Regions from separate parts of the Homo sapiens genome. Here region 1 is linked to region 2. The links come from fine-mapping of genetic effects on gene expression. A gene starts in region 2. The other region holds a variant in brackets. All regions are shown on one strand. Distances are from middle to middle.

The links. PIP is the estimated chance that this variant, and not a neighbour inherited with it, causes the effect.
Region 1: its variant is the best candidate, but not a certain one, in a credible set for the expression of TPRG1 in whole blood (INTERVAL, PIP 0.57).

The regions. Positions count from the first base shown.
Region 1 is chr3:189,120,108-189,125,499 of GRCh38, reverse strand. It overlaps a transcript of TPRG1 not described here. Among named protein-coding and RNA genes, the nearest start is that of TPRG1, 49 kb to the left of the region's middle. The variant C/T (reference allele first, on the strand shown) is at 3,327.
Region 2 is chr3:189,169,341-189,174,732 of GRCh38, reverse strand. TPRG1 (tumor protein p63 regulated 1) reads right to left here and starts at 2,762. Exons shown (of 6, transcript NM_198485.4): 1 at 2,602-2,762.

The sequences.
Region 1 (5,392 bases), 49 kb after region 2:
GGAATTAATCAGCTATAAACAGACAACCCTGGAAGAAGATCATATGGTCTGACAGGCCCAGGGCTCAGTAAATAATAAGCACCTTCATTTAATGTAGTACTTTATAAATTCACTGTGTAATTTCTATTATATCATTTCTTTTGATCCTCAAAAACAATACGGGAGGTTAACTGGGATTAATATCTCCATTTGACACCTGAGAATACTGAAGCCAAGGGAGAAAAAGAAACTTGCCCGAGGTTATATGTCTTGTTTGTGGAACAACAAGGATTTGACTTGCTCTGACTCTATAATACAGGTTTCCCTTCCAATGCTACATTATTATCTTAAAGTAAACATTAAAAACAATAAGAAAACTTTTTGTCTGAGTATAAGCAGACTTTTTTATGTAGTTGCCTAGAAATTAATTAAATAAATCATCCAATATTGGAAAACAAGAAGTAAAAGCAAACATTCAGAGCGAAGAGAGACCTAAAAGATTACCTACTAAATTGAAGGTAGAACAGATTAAAGTAAATCACTTAAGATCTCATTGCAAGATCTAATACTACTTTGGTCAAAAGTTTATTTAACTTTCAAGCTAATAAATTAAAAGTTTGGATTTATTTAACATGGGTTATTGTATAGAAAGATAGGTCTAGACTCTGCCATCATTTACCCATTGAACAATTTCTTATCTTGCTCCATGCCAGTAGTGGACCTTCCCAAATTGAATGTGAAAATATTTCAGTAGTTTGGTTTTATGGAGGAAAAAATAAAGATTACTATTTTTAGCAATGCCCATGAAATAACAAATGTTCATGTAAGATAAATAGTTTCCTCATACATAAAGTGGAGAGGACATTGCCTCCTGCTGCCAAGATTATTAGAGTATTAAATGAGTTAATGAAGAAAAGCTATATTAATATATGTACACGTATGTGTGTGTGTGTATATATATATACACACACACACACACAAAGTCCTTTGTTCTTAAAAAAAATGTCATAATATGTATACGTGAAACAAAAGAGAAAGCCCTTCTTCTGAGGGGATCTAGCAGAAGAATAATCTAAACTCTCTTGTTAATCTATGTCTTTCACTTTCCCCATCTCCCAGGGTTGTCACAGTACAGTTTGAAAGCCATTGCTTTAAATCACCATACAGGATGGAGCTTTTGTCACCCCTTCTGAGCTCCCCTTGCACTTTAAATATGCTTCTTTTCTAAGCCACTATGTTTTATTGCCACAAGGAATTTCTCTGCCTGCTTCTTCCGTTAGACTGAGGCTCCTTAAAGACAAGCACCATGTCTTATTCTGTGTACCTACTCCAGAGCCTCCCCAAAGCTGTCTCTGGCACACTGGAACTCATTAATTCATGTGCTCTGAATGAACACGTGAATTAGTGAGTCAATGAATAATAAGTAACTTTAAGAAGGTAATATTCTTAAAATATTACCTGAAAAAGCTGAATAATCAGAACACGTACAACGAAGTAAAGACAAGACTCTGCTGCATTACTCTAATGCATTTCAAATCCTAAACAATCATACAGCAGTACCACCTCTAATTGGCAAATAGGTGAGTTGCCAGCCTTGATGGGCCTGCCACGGCTGGCTGGCCAGGGTCTGAGCGAGAGAGACTCCAGAGCACATTTCCCGGGCACATTTCCAGTCCCAGGGAGAATCACTCCTGTCAAGTTTATCAGCCAAATCCTCCCGATTACCAGAGGTCAAGAGCACACGCAGCAAAGCATTTCTCTACTCGCTTAGGCCAAGGAGAGACTTGATAGAGTGCCAGCAAGTACAATGAATGTTGTACCTTATAAATGCTGATAAGACAACATGTTCCTTTTAGCATTAATTGCTTCATTCAGAAGAAGCCATTTAAAATCCGAGTCTGGTCTTTTTCCTTGATGAGCAATTTCAGGCTGCCTACCAAAGCTTTTGTTTGTTGGGAGGAGAGAGGAAGAGAAAGCATTTTGTTAAGGCATTTTAATTTTCATATTTAATGAAACAGATTGGGTAGCAGGTTCCTTTCATTTTATTTTTCTGTTCCCTGAATACCTTCTTGTACATTACACATTCTGCCGGAGCTTCCTGCAAGAACTTTTCTACATTTCACAAGTTAAGGCTGTCAAATGTTACCCACTGAATCAAATATATTTCTTGCACCAATATTCAGCTATTATTATTGTAACAGACCAATCATAAATCTCAAAGCTGGAGAGAAAGGGAACATGTACTGATGTTTCTCCATATTCTCTTGAGCACATAAAATTATATAACTCTCTAAAGCCCTCTTTTTATTGCTGCATCTAAAATGTTTTGCATGCTTTACAGGATAAATTCTTTAAAGGGGCTATTTCTCTTCAGTAAAGGAGAATTAATCAATCCACCAGAAATGTTATTTGTTTTAATTAATTAGCAGAGATGTAGAGAAAAACACCACTGGACTGAAGTGAGAAGGCAAGCTCACTCATTTCAGCTATTATTTATTAGAGCGTTTTCACTTTCATTCTCCCTGATACAAGGAGGACAAAGCATTTGCCTGTTTTTAGAACAAAACTAGAATAGTGCCTGGCACATAATAAGAGCTCAATCAATATTTGTGCATAAATGAGTAAGATAATCTAACTATTTGACTTAGTTCCTCCGGGCCTCAATTTTTTCATTTGTTAAAAAACCAAAAGGACTGATAATCTCTGTATTTCTTATCTCACATAGTTACCGTAGGAACAAATGAGATAAATGATGGCTTTGTGAAACTGACAACTTATGCACATAAATAAGGGAGCAGCATCATTAGTAATAGCAGCAGGTCTAAGCCTAACCTTGTGAACTTGGCCAAGACATTTCAATTATCTGGGCTTTTGTTTCACAACGATAAAAGGACAGGGTTGGACTAGATGATCTGTAAGTTTTCTTCTAGCTCAAACTAACTAAGATCTTTTAACCAGTCAACAAAGACTCCTTTAATACCCATGCTACGCAAAATACTCTTCTAGGAAAAAAATGCCCAGGAATAATCCAAGAGATTTCAAAGATAAATTAAAACCAATAACTTTTCTAAAATACTTTGTCCTGGTTATATTTTGAAATATAAAAGCAGGCCATTGGGGAAAAGCATAGGGAGATGTGAAAACCAGATTTCACAAGAAAAGTCATTTGGGAAAATCAAAAATTGAGTTAGCTTCTGGTATGCATCTTGTGGAGATCATTCTGACCTTCCAAACTGCTTGTGTAACAAACTTGGATTTAACATTTGGTGTTGGCTTTTACAATCTACCTAATGAGAAATATCTTTAAAAAGAGTAAGAACATGCTGACTAAAAACATTCAGAAAAGA[C/T]GTCGGAGAGAAAGTGAAAGAAAGAAGGAATATAAATATACTATTGTCATTTAAACAAGCTACTAGTACTTCATGTGAATGTATAGACAACTCAAAGCAATTCTAGGCATGTGTGCATACATACATACACAAACACACACACACAGCTAAGGGAACCAACCCATCAACAAACATAAATTGTATATAAATACTAGATACTAAAGAAAATTAGACATATAAAAACACTGCTTTCTCTCAAAGGCAATTACAAGATCCTGCATGATATAAGGCCAAATATCTTTTCAACATAACATGTCCAATTTAAAATCATACCTTTACTCCTTGAATCTGCTCTTCTTCATTGGGCCTATTTTGAAAAATTTTATCTCAATCCATCATATTTTCTACACAAACCAAAAAACACAAAAGCTTTTCTTGATTCCTGCTCTCTCGCTTCCTAAGTCCAAGGAGTTATCAGGCCTTATTGTCCCAAATGACCCCCATCAAGTCCAAAAGAGGGCATGGGGAAACCTCTGGAAGGAAGAGTACATTTGTCAGGATAGATCAGGCTCTGCTTCAAGAACAAATAATTCCAGTAATAGCAGTAGCTTAGCACAACAAACATTTACTTCTTGTTCAATTACAGTCTGATATAGATTGGTTCTACTCAGTGGTTCTTCTAAGCTATGAGTCAAAGATTCAAGTTGCTTCTGCTTTTTAGCTACAAAATAAACAATCCTGTCTTCCAAATTCAACATAAAAAAGAGAAGGAGGGGTACAGAATATGTCAGAAATTTTTTAGAGCTCAAGGTTTTTTACTCACATTCCATTGGCCAAAATTCCATCACATAAAACTCAGTCCTAACCTAACCTCAAGGAGGCTGAGAAATATTGTCTTCCGGAGTATCCAGGAAGAGGAAATGATGTGGTAAAACAGGGCATTGTCTCTGCCACAAGGGCTGTTACGTAAATTAGATTATTTACTCTACCTAAAGAGATTTTTCAGGTACTAAAATCTACAAACTCTCAGGTTTATCTACCTAACTGACAAAATCCTTTCATAATTAAACTCTTTCTATAATTGTTTTGGTTTTATCCTCTAAGAAAATAAAAATTTAGAGATCTGTATCTTTATTTTCACCTACCACATTCTGGGACAGAAGATTTTTGCTCAATGTAGTACTGCGTCATCTAATAATTTACCTTTAGCTTTCCCACACATGTCCTTAATTTTAATTGAATAAAATGCTTTATTATTTATCTAAATTTTCCCACTTCCTGCACATTCCTCTGAAACTGCAGAAATACTAACAAGACCTGGTCTCAGATGGGGTGTGTGACCATGAGAAGAATTTAGAAGATTTTCAAAACACACACCAAAATTTATTGACCTATATCGAGGTTTACCAGGTTTGCCTTTCAGCTATAATTTAGATGAAATTTCCTGAGCCCTCTTAACAGTTTGGCTGTTCAGCCTTATTTAGCCAACCAACCCTCAGTCATCTTTTAGGATTAATCCTAGACATTACTTTTCTCTGGACAACTTTCCTGGCCTTCAAAGTCTGGTTGGATGTTCCATTTATGTGAATTCAAAATACACTGTATCACATATCTTTCTCATAGCACTTAACACACATTATTATAAGCATTTTTTTAAATGTCAGTATTCTTCAATGAACCACTGACCCAAAGATTCACATATTTTTTCCTTTCCAGTATGCCAGACTCTTTGTCCAGAATCTACATCTTGGAACTTACTGAGAATGAAATATATTATCATTAGATTAATTGAAACAAAGACATTTACCATAACTGCAGGTGGGGAGGATTCACTGGGGCATATTCTCAACTTCTCTTCTTCTAAAAGCAATTTTCTTGCCTTTTCTTAAAGTTTAGAAAATTCAGTGGTGGCGGTTCTAGTCATCATGTCACTTGTTTTCTTTCATCTAGCATATTAAAGCTCTAAAAATTCCCAACTCTATTTTGAGCCAGTTAAGCACTGGATTGCAAACAACACAGCCTCCCCACCCTAATTTTAAAATGCATTCCTAGCATAGTGGTCATTGCCACTGCCTCTGACAGATACT
Region 2 (5,392 bases):
TGATAGCTAGCTGAAGAAAATATCCTGGGTAGGTATCAGAGCCAACGGTATGTTCTACTGAAGTCATCATATATCCTATATCTCTTACATAGTGAGAGGTTAGGAACAAATAATTAACTTCACCTCTTCCCTGGTGCCATTAACCTGTAGCCTGGTCTGTCATTATGTAGAACTAGGTTTCCGTTGAAAGAGAATGATTGAAAGGAATCCTAATACCTAAGAGATTGGAAGAGATCAGAAGTGGAAAATTCAAACACTTGGTAGCCTAAATCAGGTAAAATGGGAGCTGTGGAGGATGGGGGAAAACATGTTCTATCTACAGGAAGAAGTTGCTGCCCGGCCCCAGCACAGGTGTTATCCATGAGGGGATGTGGGTCCATTATTATCAGATCTCCTGATCTTCCTGAAAACAAGATATCTGGATTTTTTACAGGAAATTTCCTAGATATCAAATACTTTGGAACTAGTTTTATCTTGTTTAACATGGCAGCACAAACAAAGCACATCTGCATGCTGGATTCACCTGTGGCTGCTGCTCTGCAAGCTCTGGAGTAAATGAATTCTCGGACTTGACGCTGCCATTAGATTAAACAATGTTGAGTAAAATATCAACTATCACTTCAAGTTTTAAAAGGATCAAACTGAGTGGCACTTATTTAGGAAGATCCCAGAAAATATAAAAATCCAGACAGGCTGAAGAAAATGAAGATGCCACCACCTCTTGCCCATCTCCCCATCTTATACCTAAGGAGCAGCTCCAACATTTGGCCGAAGCAAATATTCCAGAAGAACCAAGTCAATAAAGAGAGAGGCTTCTCTGACAGATTTCCCTGCTCTAAAGGGCATGATACCATCTCCAGTAGATGCTAAGCAAAGGTCAAAGTGCCCTAAAACTCTTAATTGGAAGAAATCTTAAAGGACATCTAGTTACAGTCTCCAAAATGACATGGCTAATGCTTCTGCTTGGGACTCCTAGCACCATTCACTACATATTGTGGGCAATGAAAGAGTAAGAGACCCATATGTGACTTGCAGCTCCAATGATACTGGCTGTGTGACTTGTGCATATCACTTCATCTTTCTGGGCCTCAGTTTCTCTGTTTTGAATAAAGTAATCAATTAAACGATTTCTTCAGGATCCTTACAGCCAGAAAGACACCAAGAATATATAGAAGTTCCAGCCTGACCAACATGGTGAAACCCCGTCTCTACTAAAAATACAAAAACTAGCCAGGTGTGGTGGTGCATGCCTGTAATCCCAGCTACTCAGGAGGCTGAGGCAGGAGAATCGCTTGAACCCGGGAGGTGGAGGCTGCAGTGAGCCGAGATCGCGCCACTACCCTCCAGCCTGGGCAACAGAGCAAGGCTCTGTCTCAAAAAAAAAAAAAAAGAAGAAGAAAAGAAAGAAAAAGAATATATAGAAGTCTGCCAAAGATTATATAGCATTACAACCCAATGCATTTGTGGTGGCCCCAAGGGATGACTATCAGTACTGTCATAATAAACTCAAACAGACACACACACACATACACACATGCACACACACACAGAGGAAACATTTCCTTCCACAACTAAGAATGATATAACCTTTTGAGCATGAAAAGAAAAATGATAGCTAAAATTAGCATCTTAAAAAGTAAACTACATAATAACTGAAGATGAGATTTCCTTAAAACTGTAGAACAATGAGATACTATGATAGCTGTCACAAGAGAGGAAATTGCATGAGTGTATTTGAAAGGATTTGGGGGTGTTTTTCCCCCATTGAGATTTGCTTTTCTACATACCACAGTGTGACTGAAAAGCTAAAATATTTCCCCAGGGCCTGTATGATCTGTGCCTCACTACGCTGCCTCTGACATTTGGAGAGTGTCATTTAGCCCCGAATTAAAACCTGCTTATACAGAGATCTGGAGGATGTCTCAGGCGCCAAGTAGTCATCGCTGTCTCATTTGCCTATCACCTTTCAGTTTACAACTCCCCTTTACATACATGCCCTCGTTTGTTCTCTAAAAACAGCCCTGTTTGATGGGACCTATATATTATTATGAAATTTCCCTCAGATGAATTCAAAAATAACCCTCTCAAACTGCCTGCAAAGAAATAATCACCTTTTGTTTGCCATTTAACGGTTCAGAAAGGCTTTTCACTTCTTTTGGCTTTTGGGGATAAGGTATGACCTGCTGGGTTCTATAATAGAGGAAGAGGGAAGAAGGAATCAAATCTAATCTTGGCCTTAACCTGCTGATCCAATTGGAACAAATCACTTCAATTGACCAAGCTTCAGTTCACTAAGCCACCAAATGGAGAAAATTATACCCATCCTACTGCACTATAGGGCAGTTAAGATCAAAATCAATATATAGATAAGTATGTCAAGTGGCTTTATAGGCTAAAAAATGCTAGCCTACAAGCCTCATCAACCCTGGACAGTAAGGAAGAATAGGGAAATTTCACATGGTAATGCAAAACTACAAACCTAAACCAAACTGCAAGTCAGTGGGGGAGGTGACCAGAAACTCGGCTTAGGGGACAGAAGCAATTGGTTCATAGAGAAATAACCCATCTCTGCAGAACCAGTGACAAGCCACTTGATCTTACCTGACTAGGCTGGTCCTCAAGGCTCTTCTTTCTCTTTCTGCACAAAGGGGGCTAGACCACAGATAGTGGCCAGGAGAGGTGTGATTGGCTCAGATAAAGCCAGGCAAGACAGTGCCCTGTGCTGTGACCCCACTCAGTCTGAATCTCACTTCACCAAGTAGGCTGAGAGTTACACTGCCACCCTCAAATAGTCAAATGAAAGGACTGAGGATGTTTACAGGGTGGAACTCAACCCGTCAGAGGCAGAGAATTGGGTTTGTGGGTGGGGCCTTTCTTGTTCTGCAATGACACACCTTTACCTCCTGTCCTCTCCCTCAAGAAGTCCTGCATTTTTCTGCCAACTCCCTCTAATACACATCCAGCTGAGGGAGCAGGAGCAGCCTATCATCCATTCCTCCATGGCTTCTGTATGCCTCCAAGTAGTTATAATTAAGCTTAAGCCTGAGGCCTACACTCCTATCATTAATATTCTTTATGATGGCTTGATTTATTGGATATTTGTGATTTTAAGCATCACTACCACTCTTGTCAAAAATGTAGAAGACATGTAGAGCAGTGTATCTCTGAAAACAAACACATGTACACACAATCTCTGGTCAGTATTCCTATTAGGAAATGTGCCACATGATATTGTCTCTATGTAAGTGTGTATCCCCCTCCCTAGATGGGGGGCCCCTTGAGGGCAATGCTACATCTTATTCTCTCATATACTCCTCAAAACACCCAGCAGATAGTAGGTAATAAATAAATACACATTGAATTAATGATGATCCATTAATATCTATTTAGTGAATCCTGATCTGTCATTTAATGGCTTTGCAGCCTATAGCAAGTCATAATCTATCTTTCTGAGGTTTTTTAATTTTGGTCATCTGTAAGTTGAGAGTATCATTTCTCCTTCAGAAATGCAGATAGAACTTGAAAGGAAGCATATGAGAATAAACCTAGGATAAGATTTGACATAGCAACGGTGCTAAAAAAATGAAATAGAATCTTAATGAACACATTCTGAAACCTAAGCAAGTGTGTTCTACATACAGAGTTGGTATAAAATAAAGTATGAACTGCACAAGTAGGTGGATTGCTGAAAGAAAGGAGAGCACAGAAAACAAAATGCTGTTATGTGTATGATTGAATTTCAATCTTCTATCCTAAATTCTCTACTTCATTCAGCAGACTCTGGCCAAATCAGATTGTATTTGTTTGATGGCTGGAGGAACGGGTGTGCGCTGACAAAGTAAATTGGTTGAATTCCATTCTTTTAAAAGAAAAATAACTAATATTCACCCTTCAAAAAATGTTGTTTAAAGTTCCAGGAATACTGAGGTCATGAAGCGATTCCACAGGAAATGAAGTGCAAACTGGCAACTCGCCACTCAGGAGAGGTCACAATGAATAAACAGTCCTTTTACCTGCTTCCACCGTGTCGAGGACGTCATGTATACTAACTCAACAGTAGTTAACTGAGCAACTACCTTGAGCTTTCTCAGTTATCCACATAGACAAGGATATGAAAAGGAACCAAACACATTCTCTGGCATAAGGAGCTCAAGAAGATAAAATTTGTAAGTGAATTAGCATTGCACGATATAGAAGATGATGAGCACCACAGACAGGATCCTAACAAGTACTATGGTAATCCAGAGGAGGGAGCAACTCCAGGAAGGCTGCACAGCGGTGGAGGCGGCATTAGATCCGGGCTGTTAAGAAGAGCCAGGATTTCAACAAGCACAGATGGTAGAGTTGGGTATAAATGTTATTGGTGAGATGGACTCAGCCACAGTTACCTGATCAAACTGATTTATGCCCCCTCCCTAATACAGACCCCAGGCTGAAAAGAGAGTTTTACAGAACCGGTATCTAGGTCACACCACTTAGACGCCACAAAACTACAGGGCAATTAGAAATAATTGCGAGGCAAATACCGTTCCCACTCAGCTCCAAATGTCTTTATGACAGCTCAGGGTGGGGGCACAAAAGGCAGGAGGAGTGGAGACATGCTGGATCCCAGCCTGGTCTCTTAAGAGAAGGACTAAGCAATGCACTGCTGTTTGAAGTATGCTATTTTAAAGGGCAAGAAACTCTGTGAAAAGACATCAATTGTTCACACGGCATCCATCTAATTATCGTTAGGTTTCCAGCGGCCACTGAACACTCCTCCCAGCTCATGCTGAGCTCCGCCATACTGCAGCCTGCAGTAACATAATACATCCAGGAGGGGCACAAGCAGTAGGAGTAATGCCACACGGAAAACCTCAGCTCTGGTCCCTGCTCAGCTGCTCACTGGGATCAGAGGCAAGTAGCTTAGTTTTCCCCAAGCCTTGATTGCCTCTTCCGTGCAATGGGAGTTACAGTACAGATCCCACCAACCTCCCTGGGCTGTTGAGGGAGAAAATGAGCTCCTGGAGGTGATAAGAGCTTTGTAAAATTCAAAGTATTGGTATGAATGTGAAGCAATACTATGACAGAACATATGGCTATATATAAGAATTCACTTCATGTCTGTATTTCCAGGCATAGCAAAGGCTATGTACAGATCTCCCAGTAGAGGACATGCTCAACAGCCAAGGAGCAGGGAAGCACAGAATAATTTTTACCAGATTGGCCTTCAGAGATCATTTCTCTCTGTGTCCTGTCTCTTCTCTCTCTTCTATAATAACCTTTACAGGCCGGGCCTGGTGGCTCATGCCTGTAATCCCAGCACTTTGGGAGGCCGAGGTGAGCGGATCATCTGAGGTCAGGAGTTCAAGACCAGCGTGGCCAACATGGTGAAACCCTGTCTCTACTAAAA